Regions from separate parts of the Homo sapiens genome. Here region 1 is linked to region 2. The links come from fine-mapping of genetic effects on gene expression. Tissue or cell type: whole blood. Region 2 holds a variant in brackets; the other region holds the start of a gene. All regions are shown on one strand. Distances are between the middles of the regions.

Region 1 (9,322 bases), 50 kb after region 2:
TAATGAACTTTCTGAAACCCCACTTAATGATGAGTTAGTGGTAAAATGCTTATAATAGGATTCTTGTCTTCAATGATTTAACTATCTAATGAGAAAATCGACTTGAACAATCATGAAACGCTAAACTATCATGTGCCTGAGTTAGGCCACATAACTCAGGCCTGATATATTATTGATGTCGGTTTCTTCAAAGAATCTCATGGGAAAAAATTCTAAGTTGCTTAAGCAGGCCCATTTGCTGGGTTCATGTTTAAAAACAAAGAAATTGTTAAAAGAATGTATTTCTCTTTCAAGAAAACATTTGTAAAATCTTATTTTCACATTGAAAATAAAGCTAAAACTCCCAAAGTGGTTAGGCTGATTGGCTTACTGGAAGAAAAAGCCAACAAACTGGTACATGAATACTCTAATAATTTTTTAGTATTTTGCTTGATTAGAGTCATCAGTATAATACTATAATTTTTAAAGTATATGCTACACAAGACGATAAAGGAACATTTTAATATTCTTTAAAATTCCAAATAAGGTTGAAGGGAAGTCTGTACTCCATTTCCATCAGCTCTCATCTCATTTCACCATAGGCTGATGTATGTTTTAATTAATTTGTATTACCAACTTACACATTTTTATAAACAACCTCTATGTCTTCAATGTTACAAAATGAGTCACATAAATAAATATTTTGTCTCTACCTTCTTGTTTCATGTGTGGAATTGCTGAAATCTTCTATTTAAGAACACTATATCCTTTTTTAAAAAAAAATTGTGTCCCAATATTTTAGCTTAATCTTTTCAATAAATGTAAACCATACCCCTGCAGGAGTCTTTCCCCATATTTAATTATTAGCCCATCTGACTTCAGGTGAAGTCTTAAAGTCCCCTTTATAAAGTAAAATGGACTTTATAAAGTCTACAGAACTTTTTCTGTATTCCCTATTACAGTTCTTTATTTTAATAACAGACTTCTACATAACTAATCCCTTGGAGTTTGCCATCACATAATCTACCATGGGTATGAACTGTTCCATGTGTATTTTTCTGGCAACAAGACCTCTGGAAAAAAATAAACAAATAAACAAAGACCAAAAGGAATCACACACAAGGGGACAAATTGTGTCAAATACAACTGGTCTCATGTACCTATAAACCACACAACAAGGGCAGAAGTCTCAATCCATCTTCTCCAAGGTTTGGGAAAGGAGATCTCACTGTGAAGAACTTTTCCCCCTTTGACAGGAAACAGTAATATTTCCTTACTTGGGAGCTAAAGCAATAAGGCAATCATAAATAAATGGTGCATAACTATTGCTATTCAAGTACAGTTGAGTTTTTTTTTTTTGGACTGTCTCCCACACTTTTTGCCTAATCACCATTTAGAGTTTAGCTGAGAAAAATTCCCATGAATTGAAAGTCAAACAAATAGCGTTATGATTTTATTATTTTTCATAAACCCATTTCACATATCAAGCAATGCCCAAGGAAAAGAAAACTACTATACATTTATTATTTCACGTGGTTTTGAAACTTGAACAAATCTCATTTGAAAATAGAGAAAAATGCAATTTTTGCAGAGTAGATGGGGACCACACTGATTCCATTTTTAAAAAAGGATTTCCTGTAAAAACAGAAATTGGCAATTTACTCTAAGAAAACACAGCAGAAGCTGGGAAGAAACTTGAGGATGCCTAAATTTCCACTGTGGAACAACTTTTGCTGCCCAGTGGGGAGAGAATAAAAAAAAAAAAGAACACCTGCAACAGGGGGGGAGGAGAGGAAGACAAGCTGGGACTGCACATCCAGTGAGCAGAAAATGAGGCAGTTTTCTAATCTAGGAAGAGAGGGAGCTGACAAGAAAGGAATATATATGCATTTGAAGAATACCAAGGCGGATTTTGTAGTCACCTGCCACATCAGAGAAAAACAAGAAGGCAGTATTTGCTGGGGAGAAGGAACCAGTGCACAGCAGATACTGATGAGTTTAAGGTACCTTTTAACTAGAGGAAAGATTAGTGAGGTGCTGAAAGTTGCTGCCACCAACTGGGCATCAGGCAGACTCGGGGGTTACAAATCACTTTCACTTCATAAACTGTGCATCTCCAATCAGAATGGTAAACAGGTTTCACTGTAGTCAAAGAGGTGAGTTTTGAAGCCGGTAATATTTTAACAGACAAAAACAGAAATTTTAAGCAATAACTGGAAAAATGTAGTACATAACTGCTTTTTCTGATGATTTATACAGCAGGGCACCGTTAAAGGATTTATTCATATGAGACTGTAACGGCAATAAGCAGAGGGAATAAATTTAAAATGTTATTCAAATTTAACATAAGAATTGGGGTTTGCTTAAAATCTATGGGAAAGACTTTGATCCAGCAATTCTATTTTTACTAATTTATACCACATATAAACACGTGTATGTAAACACAGGTATGCAGAAGAAAGTTGGTAATAGCAAAAGACTCAATGTAATCTAAAGAGCCATCACTAGGGAACTGTTCCAGTGACATAATGAGGTTCTATACAACAAGAAAATGGGGTAGGGCGCAGTGGCTCAAGCCTGTAATTTGGAGAGGCAGAGGTGGGTGGATCGCTTGAGGCCAAGAGTTTGAGACCATCCTGGCCAACATGGCGAAACCCCATCTCTACTAAAAATACAAAAAATTAGCCGGGCTTGGTGGCACCCACCTGTAATCCCAGCTACTCTGGAGGCTGAGGCAGGAGAATCGCTTGAGCCGGGAAGGTGGAGGCAGTAAGCCAAGATTGCACCACTACACTCCAGCCTGGGCAACAGAGCAAGACTGTGTCTCAAAAAAAAAGAAAGAAAATGAATGAGGTAGATCCATATGAGTTAATAGATGGATGCATTAAAGATACATAAAAAGTAAGTAAAGTTCAGAATATTGCATGTACAATACATTCCATGTATTAAAAAGGATACACACACACATGTGTATGTATACATATATATTTGTGTTTATTTGTACATGTATACATATGCCTAAAAGATTTATAGAAAAATACACAAGAAAATGGTCTCTGAAAGGTGGCAGGGAAATACTTTTAATTGTATATATTTTTAAATTATTATTTTCACCCCCGTGTATGTGTGTGTGTGTGTGTGTGTGTATATATATATATCACTTATTATAAAATCTTATAATTAACATGAGAATTAGGAACACACATAATTACAATTCTATTAATACCCTGTTTTTAGGAAGGCTTTATAAATAGTTTACAATAGGATAAGGTCTGTGTTAATGATCAAATACTGTGAGGAGCACAGAGAGGTATCTCTCTATAATCACAAACAAATTTAAAACCAGAGAGAAAAAGCACAAGTGTGAGTAAAAGTGTGGCATCCTGTTAAGCAACAAAGTAAAGCTTAGTTTCTTTTTTCACATTCCCAAGGGAACACACTAGTTGGTGACAGCCCAGAGAAATGAGACAAATGTCTGACCAGGCCTCACACCTCTCTGCAGATCTTCAGCCACAGAATTAAATCCCCACGTCCTTTATATACAGGAGCAATCCTATCAGAATAGATATTAAGATATTATTATGTAGGAGAAATGTATTTTTGAAGGAAAAATACTGGACTAAATGAGGTCCTCTTGAGAACATATGAAAATCAGAGCCTCAGTCTACTTATTGAACTTGCCATGTGCCTTGCACACAGGGCAATAAACATCTGCTGTCTGATCAAGGTCAGGTTTACCATGATAAGCAAACTTCCTTCCAACATTATCGGAATTCTGGGTTTATTTTCCACGAAGGCCAAGATGGAACCGAATTAATCATAACTATTTTCTGTGCTATTTTATCACAGCCTAAGTGCTTGGCTCATACAATCATCTTGTCCTTACTCCAGACTAGGAGTCAAAAACTGGTCTGGTGAGTTTACTTTTTCTTCTCATATCTGGGCCATACAAACACAAATTTTACTACATATACATGACTATAACACCTCATAACAAAAAAAGAGTAAGTGAAATGAACAGCCACATATCCAAGTGGATACCATCACTTGGTGACCCAGAGCTATATAATAAAGCTACAGAACCACTCAGGAAAAGAGCATCAGCGAGAATGGTAAGAATTTAATACAAAATCTCCCTATATATACTGTCTGAATTTATTTAACAGGCTCCTCCAAGAAGATAAAAGGGGTCACTGACAGTCCATCCTGTTGTTTCCATGGAGGCTTTAACTTAAACAACTGCAGACAAATTTCTCTTAAAGGAAATGTATTCCCACTGTCCTTCAATACAGGAAAATGACAACCCTTAGTCAAGTCTAATTAAAATTTTTCCGGCTGAAACATCTGTAACAGCGGCATGGGAAGCCAGTGAAATGGTCAGTTGCATGTACACAACACAAACACCACTAGTTAAAAATACTCCCTTAAGGCCGGCCACAGCAGCCTTACTGCTGCAGTGAAACGGAGAGCCCCACACAACTCAAAAAACCAGTTCTCAGAACCACTTGCCCTGTTCTGCTTCCAATGTAGACATCTAAAGGAAGCATTGCCCAGAAAACCCAATCCGTAATTTTAATAAGCATAATTTACGGAAGAGTCAACTACTGTGTGATTTCTCCTCTGACTGTCATGGGAATCCCTTCCTTTCCTTGCCCCCTTTCAAATACAGCATCTACCAAGATGACCCCAAGGAAAGTACTTTCCTCTAGAAACAACCAGAATTGATATTGCAGGGAAAGGAACGGGCTTCTCCTCTTATCCCACTCGCAACTCCTCCCCTTCTTCCCCAAGGAACTCTTCTCGCCTCCCAAAATCTGCCTCAACAATGGCCCAAGATTCCATTTAACCACGTCCTCTCCTTTGGGGCAGAAATCTCTGGGAGTAGGGGCAAGGTAGTTTAACCACGAACGGGGTGGGGACTAAACAACCCTAGCACCTCTAAGGTGCCCCCAGGAGGTCTTGCCAAGGAGTCTTCCACAGGGAGAGTCATCCTGCCCGTTGTTCTGGATCTTGAAACTTGGGAGACCCACACCAAAGGAGGGAACCGGTTCCTTTACCCTTTAAGCGCGTCGTGTCCTCCACCGCCTCTTCTCTTGGCCCGACTGGCTCTGGTTTCCTTCACGTTCCCAGCCTCCAAATTGGCGTCCGCCCCATGGCTCGTGTAGGACGCTAAAAGCACGGTAAATCCCAGGGCGATCTCCAGCAGACGCCCTCGACGCATGATGCCGAGCCGCCACCGGCTCCCGCCGCCTCTTGCCGCGCCCGGGGCTCGGTCTGCGGCCGCCGCTGCGCCCTGAAGCGCACCGCGCCGCCGGGGTCCCGCTATCCCGCCGCCCGTCCCCCGGGCCGGGCTCCTCCCGCCTTCTCCAGGCGCTGCTCCCACTTCAGGCGGCCCCTGCCAGCTGCAACACAGAGACAAATCCCCGAGGCGGGGAGACTTTCAGGGCATCGGGATGCTGAAGCCTCGCGGTCCCCATTCCCAAGCCCAACCCGTGCGCCGCCTGCGCGTGGCGCAGTTAATTTGGGTAAGGGAAGACCGTTTGGTCCACAGCTGGCTGGAAAGCCCAGGCCCCCGGCGGCAGCAGCCCCGGCCGATCCCTCGGCCTCCCGGGCCCCGCCAGAAGAGCGCGGCGCAAAGTACCCATATCCCCAGCGGTCCTAAGCCCCGGGCGAGCTCTCTGGGTTTATTTTTTTTAGCGGCACGAATTGCGCGCGATGCGCGCTCTGAACGCCCCACTCCTCAGCCTGCCCTCTCCGCCAGGCTGGAAGCCAGCCGCGCCGTCCCCGCCGACTCCGGGCGATGCCACCGCCCCCCGAACATCTGACGCGGAGCCCGGCACCAAGAGCCCCGGGCCAGGAAGCTGTCAGGCAGGGGAGGGCCAGCGCCAGCTGTGGACGTTCCGGGACAGCCCCTCACCCCAGTCCCTGTCCCTGCCCTCGGCGCGGCGCAAACGCAAAAGCCTCCGTGGCCGCAGCTCCAGCCCCGGTGGCCGCCCGACCCCCGTCGGGACCCCGGCTGCACCCACTGGAGAAGCGGCGGCTCCGACTCCCGAGGAGGCGGCGGCGGCTGCTCCCAGTCGTGGCCGCTACAGCCACTGCTCGGCTCCGCTCGCAGCTGTCCCAGCTGTGGCTCCTGTCCGCTTGTGGCACCCACAGTCTCTGCCGCGGCTCCCGCAGCCCCCTCCTTTCCCCACCTCTTCAAGTATCGTCCGCGCAGCGGTTTCTCGCGAGAGAAATACTTTTTTTAAAAAAAGAAAGAAAAAGAAAATGACACCCCCTCCTTCGTCGCCCTCATCACCACCCCACCCCCCGGCCCCATCCATCCTCCCTTTCCACTCCCCTTTGCCAGCCTCCGCCTCGGTGCGGGGCCTCTCGCTCGCAGGATTAGCGCAGTGGGAGGAGGCAGAGGTGATCAGGTCCTGCCCGGCCTGGGACTTTTTGTCTTGAGGTGGGGAGGGGAGAAATGGGAAGAGGTGGAGTAGCGGTTTTAGCCCGCTCTGCGGCTGCGAGGTTTAGATCCGAGATTAACCTCTCCCGCGATAGGTGAAGCCCTACCGGAGCAGAAAGCTGTTCCACCTGCACCAAGAATGCGCGCTGGAGACGGTTGCCCCGGAGGCCCTGGCCCGAGAGAAAACCAGTCCCCGCTGCCCGCGCCTCCCGGTAGCGCGCTCCCTGCGCCTCTCCCGCCGGACACTCAGCAGACGCCGGAGGCCGGGAGGCTAAGACTGGGCGCGTCGCAGGCCGGGACCGCGGCAGAGGCTGCTGTGCCGACCGAGGAGAGGGCTCTGCCGCCCCCACTTGCCCTGGGTGTCGAGAGCCCACTCCAGACGCGGCTCTTCTGAGGCTCAATTCAAGCCACCCAGGCCTGAATCCAGGGTGCTCTCTCTAAGTCGGTGTCCAACCCAGGGGCCTGTAAATGTTGGAACCTAGGATGTAGGATGGGAGCGGTGAAGGGATGGTCCTCTTGCCCAGCCCAGATTAAGACTGGGGTTCATCTGGAGGACTCTACTTACACCCTCCCGGTCCCCTCGCCCTCCCCCACACACAGCTGCCTCTCCCCAGGATATGCGCGGCACAGTGAATTTAGTGGCTTTGAAAGGTATAGTATTTGTGGCATCCTTATATGGATAATGCCCAATGATGCCTGCACCCTGTAACAGTTTAGGAAGGCCTGAAGTCGCACACTGGGTCCTGGCTGCTGTAACTGGAGACCCCCAGAAGATCCCCTGCAAGCAGCCACCAGCCTGCTGTCAAGCCAATAATAAAAGCTCAGCACAAACAGGTACCCTGGGAATGTATCTTGTTGAAAGGGATTTTCCTTATTTGTAACCGTTTGTAAAGGGGCCCAGACAGTAGGGTAGAGAGACCTGGGCAAGTTATTCAACTTCTTTCCAAATACAAGATGGGACTTGTAGTGTCCACCACACAGGGTTGTAATGGTGATGATGGACATGCTGAACTGCTGTGATACATGAAGATGAAACAGAAAAACTGTGGGAACTATGAGCTGATCTAAAGCCATAGTCCTGTAAGTATGTATGTGGTGTACTTTAAGGTCTCACCTGCAAAAGGTCTCTTAGCAGATTCATGAATGAGAGCCTTGGTCACACACTCCTGGCTGAGTAAAGGAGATCATTCATTCAAGATGTTTTTACTGAGCACGAACTGTGTACTACTTAGTGCATTGTTGAACTAGACTTCAACAATTTTAACAAGGCAGGTTCAACAATTTGAACACGACTGACTTCAACAATTTAGTGAAAAGGGCAGAAATGTGTCTCCCCTCACACAGCAGGTAGTCAACAAGGAAAGGCAGACTTGAAACAAATAATGGACCAATTGTTAAGCGCCAAACAGGATAAGTACTGGGTGCTTGCTTGGAGGATATATAACAAGGGGACTTGACCTAGGCTAGGGCTGATCAGGAAAGGGATCCCTGAGGAAGTGATATTTAACTTAAGTCTAAAACATAACTAGACTCTACTTAGGATAGCAGTTCTCAACCCTGGCTATGCAGTAAAATAATAAGAGGCTTTAAAAAAATTCTGACACCAGGATGGGCATGGTGGCTCATGCCTGGGCCTGTAATCCCAGCACTTTGGGAGACCAAGGCGGGTGGATCACTTTAGACCAGTAGTTCAATAGCAGCCCGACCAACATTGTGAAACCCTGTCTCTACTAAAAATACAAAAATTAGCCAGGTGTGGTGGTGCATGCCTGTAAATCTTGCTACTCAGGAGGCTGAGGCACTAGAATCGCTTGAACCTGAGAGGTAGAGATTGCAGTGAGAGGAGATTGTGCCACTGCACTACAGCCTGGGCAGAACAGAGTGAAACTCTGCCTCAAAAAAAAAAAAAAAAAAAAAAAATCTGACACTGACACCAGGCCCCAACACCCAGAGTTTCTGATTTGAGTAGTCTGTAGTGGATTCTTCACATGGATATTTTTTAAAGCTCCCTGGGTAGGGAGGGGTAAGGAGGTAATTCACACTGGGAAAAGGATCTGAGCAGAGGGACCATGGATTAGGAGAAAGCAGGGCTGTTGGACATCCAGAAAGGCCTTGTCCTGCCCACCAGTTTTCTGGGCTGCTCTGCACCCACAGGGGACTCTGGAAACTGCATGCTTTCCTTGTACTCCAGCAGCATGCAAGACATGCTGTGCCCTTTCTCTCAGAATCTTACACTCAGTGACATGTTGGTCAGCAGCAACCAAACACAAGCCTTTTCTAAGGCTTCTGCCCAGGAAGTAAAGGCCAAATCCTGGTGCCCTGCAAGTCCCCTCTTCCAACATTTCTGGACATTTCTATTATTTCTAACTCAAACTGCCTTCCAGGGTTTCACCTCCAAGGGAGGGATTTGGATTAAACGTTTTTACCTGGCCTTTGCTTTCCCCGGCAACCTCCTCTTTATTCATTGGCCTCTTTCTCCAATAAAGGAAAGATTCTTCCTTCATATTGGGTGGCAGCTCCAAGCCATATACTCCCCTCTTTGAGCAATAAGTCTCATGTTCTGACCACAATGGTGGAAGATTACAGGGGAAGGGGAAGCAGGGGGAACTTGATTACTTAAAAGTAAATACATTTTAAATATACAAGAACTATTCCCGCTATCTAGGCAATCAACATGTATTAGAGTAGCATGCTACTTATGACAAAATTCAGTAACGAATAATAAAAATCTGTGTCTTTGCAATAAGATTTTCTTGATGCCAGATGATTGAGGACCCAACTCTCCTTAAACCTATCACAGACTTTTTTTTTTTTTTTCGTAATAGGTTGTTTTGCACTGTTTGCAAATTAAGTCCATGGGCTAGAATTCCTTGCTTCCATCTCCTTATTTCAAAG
Region 2 (11,117 bases):
GGATGCCCAGCGACTGAGGAAGAAAATGTCAGCAACAGTCAGAACACAGATGCCTCTGCCCCCATTAAAGGAACTATAGGGGAGAAAGTCCAAAACAGACCAGATGATTTCATCTACCAGCAGGAGAAGAAGTAGCCTACAAAGTGGGCCGAGAGGGACAGTGAGTGGGAGACAAAAATCAAGCTTCTTTCTGGTTGCATCCCATCCCCACTGCTTGTTCATACCACATATGTGCAGCCTGCGAGACAGAGGAGCATGTGTGCCCTCAGTGTATACAGTTACCCAGCCACAAAAAAACGAGTGTGTGTGTCAAAAGATGCAATTCCTGGAACTATTCTAGGAAAATCTAGTTTATTCAGTGATCCACCAGCTGCCACAAATGTTGCAATACCACTGTAGACGCACAGTAACATTTAGGGCATTGTGCCCCTGCTATCTACACATTGTTACTTTCTTTTTTTTTTTTTTTTTTTTTTGAGATGGCGTCTCGCTCTGTCGCCCAGGCTGGAGTGCAGTGGCGTGATCTCGGCTCACTGCAAGCTCCACCTCCTGGGTTCACGCCATTCTCCCGCTTCAGCCTCCCGAGTAACTGGGACTATAGGTGCCCACCACCACGCCCGGCTAATTTTGTTTTTCTATTTGTAGTAGAGACAGGGTTTCACAGTAGAGCCAGGATGGTCTCGATCTCCTGACCTCGTGATTCGCCTGCCCCGGCCTCCCAAAGTGCTGGGATTACAGGCGTGAGCCACCACGCCCTGCCACATTGTTACTTTCCATTGAAACTAAATACCAAAAGAGAGGTTCATAGAGGCCTTCAGTGTAGTTTAGTAATGACAGTTTACTGCCTTTTGCTTTTGGAAAGAAGAAAATATACATAGTTCACAGAGCTCTGCCTTCCAAAGGCACATGGAGAATGGGAGTTAGCCTGTGGCATTACCTTGGGAACTTTAGTGATAGCCACCTACAATTTAAAATTATGTAAAATTCGTGTCAGAAATGCAGCTCTGTAAAACTTACTTCTACATAGAGAAAAAATAATAATGAATCTGTATTTTATTAATACCTTCCTGAAAAACACCAGGAGAAAAAAAGCACAGGAAAATCAGCTCCTGATTCCATGAAGCTCTCTAAACAGGTCTTGAGATAAGGTAAAGTTTTTACTTTCTTTTTCGAAGCAGGTGTTTCCAAAATGGACTATCTGATTATTATATATTTGGATAATTACATGTTAGTCCTTTCCATTCACTAGACACAGTATAGATGCTGCCTTTTTGGATTTATATAATATGTGTTTATCAACTGCTTAATGTAGTATTTTTGAAAGTCATTCAATAAAATCATTAGAAAGATATCTGTGCAAAATCATTTTTACATCATCAGAGAAACAAGGTGTGAGGACAAGTTTCTCAAACGTCAACTGCACATATAAGAAGGAGGTGGAATTACAATCAACCTAGCTGTTGTTTGTTCTATTCTGTTTCATTGTTGTGCTAACAAATACAAAAACCTTTTCAGCTTCATTAAGACTGTAATTTCCTAGGAAGCAAGTACCTGCATGAAGAGCTAGTTCACTTTCAACTGTTCTGCTTCTCTAATGAACTAAGGATTATTTCAATCCTCTCATTTTTATTCTACTCCACTTTGGCCCCAATTGTTCCTTTTCCTTAAGGCTATCAGTTCAACAATGCTTTCCCCTATACTTTATCTACTGATAGCCAGCATAACAGCCAACAGACTTTCTTAAGTTGGCAGAAATCCAAGTATTGTCTTCACAGTTTAGACTTGGGTAGGAATTTAACACAGAACAAATGCACCAGGATTTAGAAGAGTCCACGTGCATGCTAATATTCTGAGGATACATGATGAGCAGCTTCAGATGGAGAAATGAGAGAAAACTTCTTGCTATTTGCATTTATGCTTCCAAAAGGCTTCATCCTCTGGCTCACATAAAGTTTGACATTAAAACATTAAACCAATTCCATGTGCTTTATGAACCACATGAGAAAATTATTTTTAGTATTTTTTAAATCTAAGTCTGCTTTTGATCCCAAACAGCTAAAATGTGTGATTACCCACTGTAGTCACTAGAATTAACAGTAAATTACTGTAGGCTGTTTCTGAAAACTCAAATGCCTCCTCAAAAGGGAAAAAAAAAAATCACACACTGATTTGAATGTATTGCTGATTCTGTAAAGGCACCTCCAAAAAAGAGTTCCAAACACATTTTGAGCTGTTGTAATATTACAAGAAAATGATATAACTTTCCATGATAACTGCACTAAATGACAATATTCATTCCATATGTCTACTTCCAGGCATGTTAGTTCAGTCCTTTGGAGCACATTTATATGTCCTGTAAACACACAGGAATCTCTCTCTTTCCAAGAGCAGATTCGTACGTTGAAATCAATCAAATAGAGGAATATTCCAAAACCCTACATTTGAAACATCCAAGAATATGCAAGAATCCTTTCTTTTGCCTTTTCATCTTGACTTCCATTCTAAGATTCATAGTTCTAGGTTTCTTCTTACCGTTCCTCAGAAAAGTCTTTAGAGTTATGAGTGGCCCCTTTCCAGTGAGGTCTTCAGAGTTACGAGTGGCCCCTTTCCAGTGAGGTCTTTAGAGTTATGAGTGGCCCCTTTCCAGTGAGGTCTTTAGAGTTACGAGTGGCCCCTTTCCAGTGAAGTCCAAGTACTACACAGTGGCTATGTGCACAGGCTTAGGAGCCAGAATGTCTAGGTTCAGGCCTCTATTTTACCACTTATAAGCTGTCCCTTCTTGGACAAGGCACTTGATCTCTCTTTGCCTCTGCTTATTCCTCCATAAGATGGGACTTATTACAGGACTTTTCTCATAAGGTTGTTGCAAATCATCAAAGTGAAGTGCTTAGCACACCCCCTGGCACACTGCAAGTACTCAGTACATGTCAGCTGTTCTTACGTCCAATGGCCGCTTTATGATTCTCATTCTCAGACCTTCGATGAGTCTAACAATTGCCAAGTTATTTCTTGAACTCCTTTTTGTTTGTTTGGTTCAATGCTCTCCTGGTTCTCTTGCTGTATCTCTTTGTTTCTCTTCTTCCCTAAGCCTATTCATCATCACACCCCACCCCCATCTCCAAGTTCAGGTCTATCTCCATCATTCTTTTCTCTTTTGACATGACCCTGAAAAGTCTCATCCACTCATATGATTCACTGTGTTTAATACAAAGGCATTTAACAAGATTTTAAATGTGCATTCTGAGGCAAGATGGCAAGAGAAAGGGATTCCACACAGTTTTTTTGTTAGCAGTAACTATGGCAATATACGACTAGCTTGTATTGTCATTGCCAAAACAGGCACTGACCTCACTTCAATAATCTGATAACAAATGCTAACATACTGTACCACTGAGCTAAGAAGTGATTAAGTTCTACTAGTTGCTCAAGGCCCAAGCAAAGAGAAGGCAAAGGGTCGGAGTAGGAGGCAACAAGAAAACCACAAATGTGAACTTACCAAAAAAAAGTGACAGGAAGAAAAATTAAAGAAACTTGTGGTTAAAAAAAATAAAGACACAATCTTTGACAGAGAAAGCAGCAGGAGGTGGCAAACTTGAATGCTCACAAGGGCTAATACCTAAGCTAAATGAATGAACTTGAGCAAGATGTGACAATAGGTAGTGGTGGGGACTATGACAAACTAGAAGATGTATTTAAAGGTATTCCTATTCAGCTTTTAAAAAGTAGACATCACAGGCCAAATAAGCCACAGGTCTCTATTTTTTATCCTCTGGGTGTAGAGAAACAATGGTAGTGGCAATGGTAAAATATATCATTGCTACCTGCCCACTGGGGATGAGGCTGGCCAGCCAAGAATGTTTTTAAACAAACTTATCTTAATGACAAAAAGCTGCAAGTAAGACTAATTGCTTTATAATCTTATTACACTGTTATATGACTATTATGATTCATAATTCAAGCATGAGATCTGCTGCTTCTCTCCATCACAAAACCAAAATACTATGTTCATGGATGATTAAGATTGACTTATTGGCTTAATGTGATACAAATCCTGCCAGTATGACCCCCAAAGGCGTATTTCACACTCATAGTGGGTCTCTGAGGTAGTTATTAATGTATAAAAGTTCCAAGGTCTCCCAGGGACATAGATCTTTATCCTGAGAAGTACTTGTAACTGACATTCTAAATGTTCCCTTACATGTGTATTATATCATGATAAGAGGTTTTTGCTTTTGTTTTTATTGCCACTTAGTTTTGATCAAAACATTCCTCCTTTTTGCATCCCTGTTAACTGAAAAATGACAGTCTTGTGGACCTGAAAGATCATTCTTCTGAAAGATGGGACCAAATTCAATTAGATATCAACATTGTAATCAGCTCTGTTTAGCATGAAACCAATGAAATCAATATCCAGGACTGTTGGCAAACAGCAATTATTTCCAGGAGATACTTGTTCATATCCGATCATTATATCTCCAGATTTTTTGATGCTATTAAATGAATCCAGTTCATCATCTATGGGTCGTGTACTGTGCATCACACAGTAAGGCTAGAATTAAGAAGATGAAGAAACTATAGTTGCTCCTGAAAACTTATGCTCTAGTGAGGGAGATTGGAAACTTGCTGTTTTGATGCAATGCAGTAAATGCTATAAAAAGAGATGTGGAGAGAGTACTAAGGGAAAATGTAGATGAAGGGAGAAAGGAAAGTAGTAAAGGCCTCCCGGATCTGCACTTTAAAAAATAAACATCACATCCCAGTTAAAACAGAATACAACCAACCTAGGTACTTATCCAGTAATAAGCACCACAATAAGTATACCAACCCACCATCGGAAGTCACCCTGAATACTTCCCCACACTTCAGGATGGATCTGTCCTGACTCGGTATCAGATTTTTATTCATCACTCTTGAAATCACGAACATACATCTAAGTAAGAGAATCTACTGCCTCTAATTCTTCAAAGAGGTAAGCAGGTGACTTTCATAAGAGCAGCAAACAGTGAAGACTCTACAAATGGAAATAGAATTCTGGAATCAAAAAGACTCCTCTCTCCCATGTGGTGTGGGAAATGACACCCATGTTTTTCTTCTCCCATTGAAGGTCTGGGACTGTACCCGTGGGTAAAACAGGCAGTGGGTAGATGGCACTACCCTTCTGCTACTAACGGGCAAGCCTGCCTTCTGCTCTCCAGTCTCCACTACCACAAATGCCTGAAAATCTGCCACTTGGGGATGAATTTGATTTTGAAAATCACCACTGGGAAAATTCTATGGAGTCAACAGATATTTACACCTTAGTGCAGATTTCAGGATAGCCCTTTTTCCTGAAGGGGAGCAGTTGAAGACACCCCCAAACTTGGAGAAACCTCTGAGTAACATGCCAGTTTTGATTAGTAGCTTAGTAATTTAACCCATTCAGGACATTTCTTAATCTTGGACAAAGATCAAATCTTTGAAGAAATCACTGTGGAATGGTTCAATATCATGCCCTTTATTTTAGACTGTGTTATCATCAATATCAACTATGAGCATCAATAGTCTTTGCAGCAAATCTTTAACCACTTTGTTAAAATGGTTACAGGTAAAATGTTACAGGTAAAATGCCCTGTAACTTCATCTTATTAGTGATTTTTCTAAAACAAATTATGCCCAGCATTATCATCTGAGAAATTATTTTCACACACCACTCCTCAAGCTACACATTAACAATTTTAATCTCCTACAACTTCCCTGATTAAGTAATAAGGCCACAGAATGATATTGCCTAGAAGAAATAGTTTTTAGTACTCTGGACCATTATAATTATTAGCGAATAAAAACACATCTGTGCAAGTTGTAAAGAGAAGCAGTTTAAGGAGGGACTCCTAAAGGATATCAACATGCAATGTAAAGGTCTATTATGCATTACACATCAATACCATGCAGTGGTCCCATTAATAGAGATACAATGTAATTTACCTAGTAATCAAAGTAATCGACCTGGAATTTCTTGCTCAAATAGGTATTACTGCATTATTAGCAAATAACTGAATTTAGATAAATTATAAACACAGACAGAAAATAATTTCTCACAAACCACTCTCTGCTCTTTGTTTTCCTCTATTACATGTTTTAAATGACATATTCAACATCTGCTACTGAATCTTTACTTTCCATCTTAGAATAAGATGTCTATACAACTTTGGCTAAAAGTGATTACTGCAGTTTAAAAGTTCATGCAAATTTTCAATTACAGTTTTGTGTAACATAAAACTTCTAAACTTTCATTATAAAACTAGGGATGATGAGAAAAAAATCTATAAATGTAGAGACAAGATTATTAGTAAGACCAAAGTTCAGGGAAAAAAACTTAAGAATATTGCATATCCACACATATCTCAATATCATACTTGTATTTTTAGGTAGGCAAATCAGGTAGAATGTTTCTTTTAATTAAGAGCAGCAGTAAACATTAGACTTGAAGAGACAAAACACACATTCAAATTAAAGGTTTCTTATGTATGTGGCCTTGGGGACATCCCTGGACCTCTTTGTGCCTTCATCTTCTCATATGCAAAATTAAGGATAATTCTACACACTCTAGCAGGCTGCGATGAGTACTGAATAAACCATCTACACAAAGTAGCTTCTCAGCAGACACTCAATATATCTATGGTGAGTGTTGAATGCTGAGCTTGTACACCTCTACAGCCCCCAACAGGTCCAACAGATCTTTAGGTGTGCTTTTCATACTGAAATTCTCCCTTTCCATACATATGTTTTGTTCAAGACCACTTAATTCACTGGCATAATAAAGAGCTTAATCCTTACCCTTACAGAAGAAAGTTCTCCCCTTTTTATCCTGATGCCAACTGGTAATTATGTATACACTCATAACTGAGTACCACCAAATTAGCAAATAACTGAATTTAGGTAAACTTGGACTGACAAACATTGCCGAATATCATGCATAGATTCAGGGCCGCTGTCTTGTCATCCTAGGGACCTTCCCAATGACAAATGAGAAATCCCCTCAAAGCTCAGCAACATTCAGGAAGTAGCCATGCAGACCCAATGTCTGTGCAAATTAGTAACAGCTTTAGGTACCAGCATGTCTTTACGTAAATGATTTTAAAAACCATTACCTCTTTCACACTGGGGTCCAGTAAATCCGTAAGTGCATGCACATCGATTTGGGGCCACACACCTTCCTCCATTGAGACAGCCACTTTCACAAACAGCTGTAAAATAAGGAGAGAGCTGAGACGCTTTACCTGAAAATAAATGCTAATGAAGTAACACTTGTGGTCCTCTGGAAGGACAACAATAAAATGTCTAAAGTCACCCTGGTGTTTGTTTTGGACGGTCACTCTACAGTTACACATACTCAGATATTCCTCAGTCCACTCTTAGGTAAAGCTGCCTGGAATAGATGAGTTTGTATCTATGTTAATGCTGATGGTCTCATTCCGTGAAGCATCTGAGCAATGCTTTCAGTTTAACCTCGAAAACAGTGGTTTCTAAGAGATGTCACTGAATGGGAACTGTGTGTTAGCAAAGACTCTTTTGCTTATGATTTACGTTTAATTGCAACAGGGCTCCCATGAGGGGAAATATCAGCCCCTCTGATGTCACCATTACAGAAATGTAGCA[A/T]GTTCAATTGCACAATTAACTGCAAACAACAAAATACTACTAATGATCTTCAGTAATTTAAGTACCATAATGAAAATCCAATTGAGAGTTATAACAGAACTTACGGAAACTATTGGTGCAGTAAATCTAGAGATGCTTCAGGGCAGGATATTTTGCTTGTTAGAAATGACATTAAAATAAGAATTGAAAGTTCATGTGCTGAACAACTCCTCTTTGTACAAGTTCCTGTAACTCGTGCATGCATGGGCTCTTTCTAGGCATCTTCGTCATGCGTGGCAGGCTCTTCTCTGCCAAATATGTCAGTTCCACCCACTCTTCAAAGCCCAGCTGAAATCTTACTGCTCCATGAGGCTCCCCCAAAACCTCCATTCAAATTCCTTGCTCCTTATATATTTTCTATACATTTTTCCATACATTACCCTATAGCAGCCATGAAGTTGAGCCACTCATACTTTCCCTCAAGAGAATCTCCTGCAAGTTTAGCTGGCAGACCACTTCCAGCTGCTGTACCTTCAGATCTGCTGCAATGTTCATGTCAAGGGCAGGCTCACAGCCAATGACTAAACACAGCATTAGGATACTAAAGCCTGGCTATTTCCACCCATCATGGAACTCTTTGATGGGCACTTTTTGCCCTGGGTTCTCCATCAACCTGGCTATGGCTTTTTGGAGCTGCACTACAGGCTGAAGTTCCTTCTATGCAATTGTCCTTCCTTCCCTCCCTCCTTGCACAGGATCAGACAGGCATCATGGTCTGAAGACCATTCCCTCCTACTTCTGCTTCCTCTTTCCTTTATTCTTCACGGGTCTTTTCCCCAATAAATTCTCTTTTATGTCTAATTCTGTCTTGATATTTTCTTGGCATAAGAGGACCTGAACTGACACAACCCTTTTTAACCAAAAATTATGGCAGGAGGCCATTACTCATCATATAACCAGAGAGGTTTATGTAAATTAATTGTCTTCTTTGCCTCTTGATTTATAGTCAGGGAGAATGAAGAGCTTCTAAACAGAAAAGAAATTTTGAGCTTGCCTAAGCCAACCCTCCCAGATTACAGATGAGGAAGCTGAAGTTTAGGAAAAGTTTTCTAATTCTGCCAGTGTTAATTAAGCACTTGTGTGTTGGGCATTGGGCTAAACTCCCTCAGGGAGCACCAAGGGGAGCAGAAGAGATGCCCAGCAGCCCCTCCTGATTCTCCTGGAATGCCTTGGGATCCAGCCCCATCTCGCCATCTCCACAGCCATAGCCTTAGTTAGGACTTGTCTTCCTGCTCCTGTTTTGTCCTCCTCCAGTTGCGCTTCCACACTGTGATCTTTCTCACTGTAAACCTTCGTAAGTGAAGGGTAATAAGGTTGGTATTTCACAAGAGTAAACACATGGGCTATGGAGTCAGACTGCTTGGGTTCCAACCCCAACTCTGCCGATTACCATCTATATACCCTTAGAGGAACTACTGAGGTCCCTGTGTTCCAGTTCCCTCATCTGCCAGAGGGTAACATTTATGTCCTCTAATACAAAGAGTTGTTGTCATATTAAATGAGTTAACACACATAGAGTTCTAAAATGTGCCTAGCACACAGTAAGCACAGAGTAACTGAAAAGATGTAGGTTATTGATGTTGTTAGTGTTGTTTATTGTTGTGGTCTCACTCTTCTTTCCTAGCCCTACTTTGGAAGAAAACATAGTATGTATAAAGGCATCAAAACCTGGCCCATGACATCCTATCTGACCTTACTTCCTTTCCCCTCACTCTCCTCTGCATTTAAGCTCTAGCAACACCAAAGCACTTGCTATGTCCCACATCCCTTGCTGTGTCTTGTGCTGGTGCTTTGGTCATGCTCTACCATCTGCCCAAAAAGGTCCATTCCCCATCACCTGACAGGTAAGCTCCTACCCATCCCTCAAGACTCAGCCCAAGGATCACCCACACTGCGGAGGCTGCCTCTCCTCTCTCCAGGCTGGGCTACACAAAACTCAACCAATATTCTTCTCCCACTGCAGTGTGTGGATGGTGATACAGTTTGGCTGTGTCACCACCCAAATCTCATCTTGAATTCTCATATGTTGTGGGAGGTGGGAAGTAATTGAATCATGGGGGCAGGTCTCTTTCCCATGCTGTTCCCATAACAGTAAGTCTCACAAGATCTGATGGTTATCATAAGGGGGAGTTTTCCTGCACAAGCTCTTTCTGCCTGCTGCCATCCATGTAAGACGTGACTTGTTGCTCCCTGCCTTCCACCATGATTATGAAGCCTCCCCAGCCATGTGGAACTGTAAGTCCAATAAACCTCTTTCTTTTATAAATTGGCCAGTCTTGGGTATGTCTTTATCAGCAGCATGAAAACAGACTAACACAGATGGTCACTAGGGCATTCTCTACATTTTTGTTTATTTATAATAACATTATTAATCCTAATAAATATATACACAAAAGCAAAAATTAGAAACGCCCTGAATAACGCCCACCATTGAGGATTCATTAAATAAACAGTCAAACATCCAGGTAATAGAGTACTAGGCAACCATTAAAATGTATTTTAAAATGTGTAATGAGCATACTTTGAATAAAGTATTAAGTGAAAAAGTGGTACAAAAACTATATATACAGTAAGAACTCATGTACCAAATATGCATTACAAGTCTAGAAGATACTATCTGGAATGATGAAATCACGAATAATTTTACTTTTTGTATTTTTAAACTTTTCCAAATTTTCTGTAGGGTATATATGCTCATCTTAAAGTAACAAAAAAAAAAAACAAGGTTTTTAAAAAGAATGTTCGTCTTCTGCAAAGCACAGGGACTGGTAGAAAGTAGATACAATAAATGGTGTGTGCAAATGAACCTTCAAACTGAACACCATGTGATAAGTACTTCGGTAGCAGAATCTAGATTAGGAAATGAGAGGGATGCAGATACCACCAATCAAGATAAAGGACATGTTTAGAGAGAATGATGAGGCTGAGTTTTGAAATACTTTATTTGAGATGCTTCCTGAAAATCCAAGTGTTGAAGTTCAGCAAGTGGGTGGAAGGTATGTGTCTGGAATGAACAAGAATTCTGCTCCTTTGGTGGTGACTAGAAATCAAGGAGATCAGGCAAGCAAGGTGGTGAAGGTAAATGAGAGGAAAATGAATCAAACAACCTGTAACCAATCAAGGTTCCAATTGGAAATTTGGTGTTAAGTTTTTTGAGTAAGTGATTTGTTCATCTGTAAAGGTCACTGGACACTTGTAAACATGCTGTGTCCCAGGTAATCGAAGAAAATCCATCAGCACTTATCTCTTTATTCTACTTGTCTACAAACAGGTTAACATCTAGAATACTTATAACTACAGTGTACTTACGTTGTCCACAGTGAGTCCCTATGTATCCTTTCTGGCATAGACAGTGATCGTCACTGCAGCTACCTCCATTCATACAGCGAATATTGCAGTGTTGTACTTGAAAAAAAAGAAGAAGAATTCACTTTTGCAACTTA

What was found.
Region 1: FBN1 starts here. The variant in region 2 is fine-mapped to the expression of FBN1 in whole blood (TOPMed, PIP above 0.99).

Annotation. Positions count from the first base shown.
Region 1 is chr15:48,639,570-48,648,891 of GRCh38, forward strand. FBN1 (fibrillin 1) reads right to left here and starts at 6,140. Exons shown (of 66, transcript NM_000138.5): 1 at 6,006-6,140; 2 at 5,037-5,381. The coding sequence starts at 5,200. FBN1-DT (FBN1 divergent transcript) reads left to right here and starts at 6,236. Exons shown (of 2, transcript NR_183872.1): 1 at 6,236-7,261. RefSeq lists silencers at 5,115-5,164, 5,265-5,394, 5,805-5,984, 6,025-6,104 and enhancers at 6,178-6,702, 6,215-6,304.
Region 2 is chr15:48,589,156-48,600,272 of GRCh38, forward strand. FBN1 (fibrillin 1) reads right to left here. Exons shown (of 66, transcript NM_000138.5): 5 at 10,984-11,079; 6 at 7,128-7,223. Among named protein-coding and RNA genes, the nearest start is that of FBN1, 51 kb to the right of the region's middle. RefSeq lists an enhancer at 6,924-7,093. The variant A/T (reference allele first, on the strand shown) is at 7,636.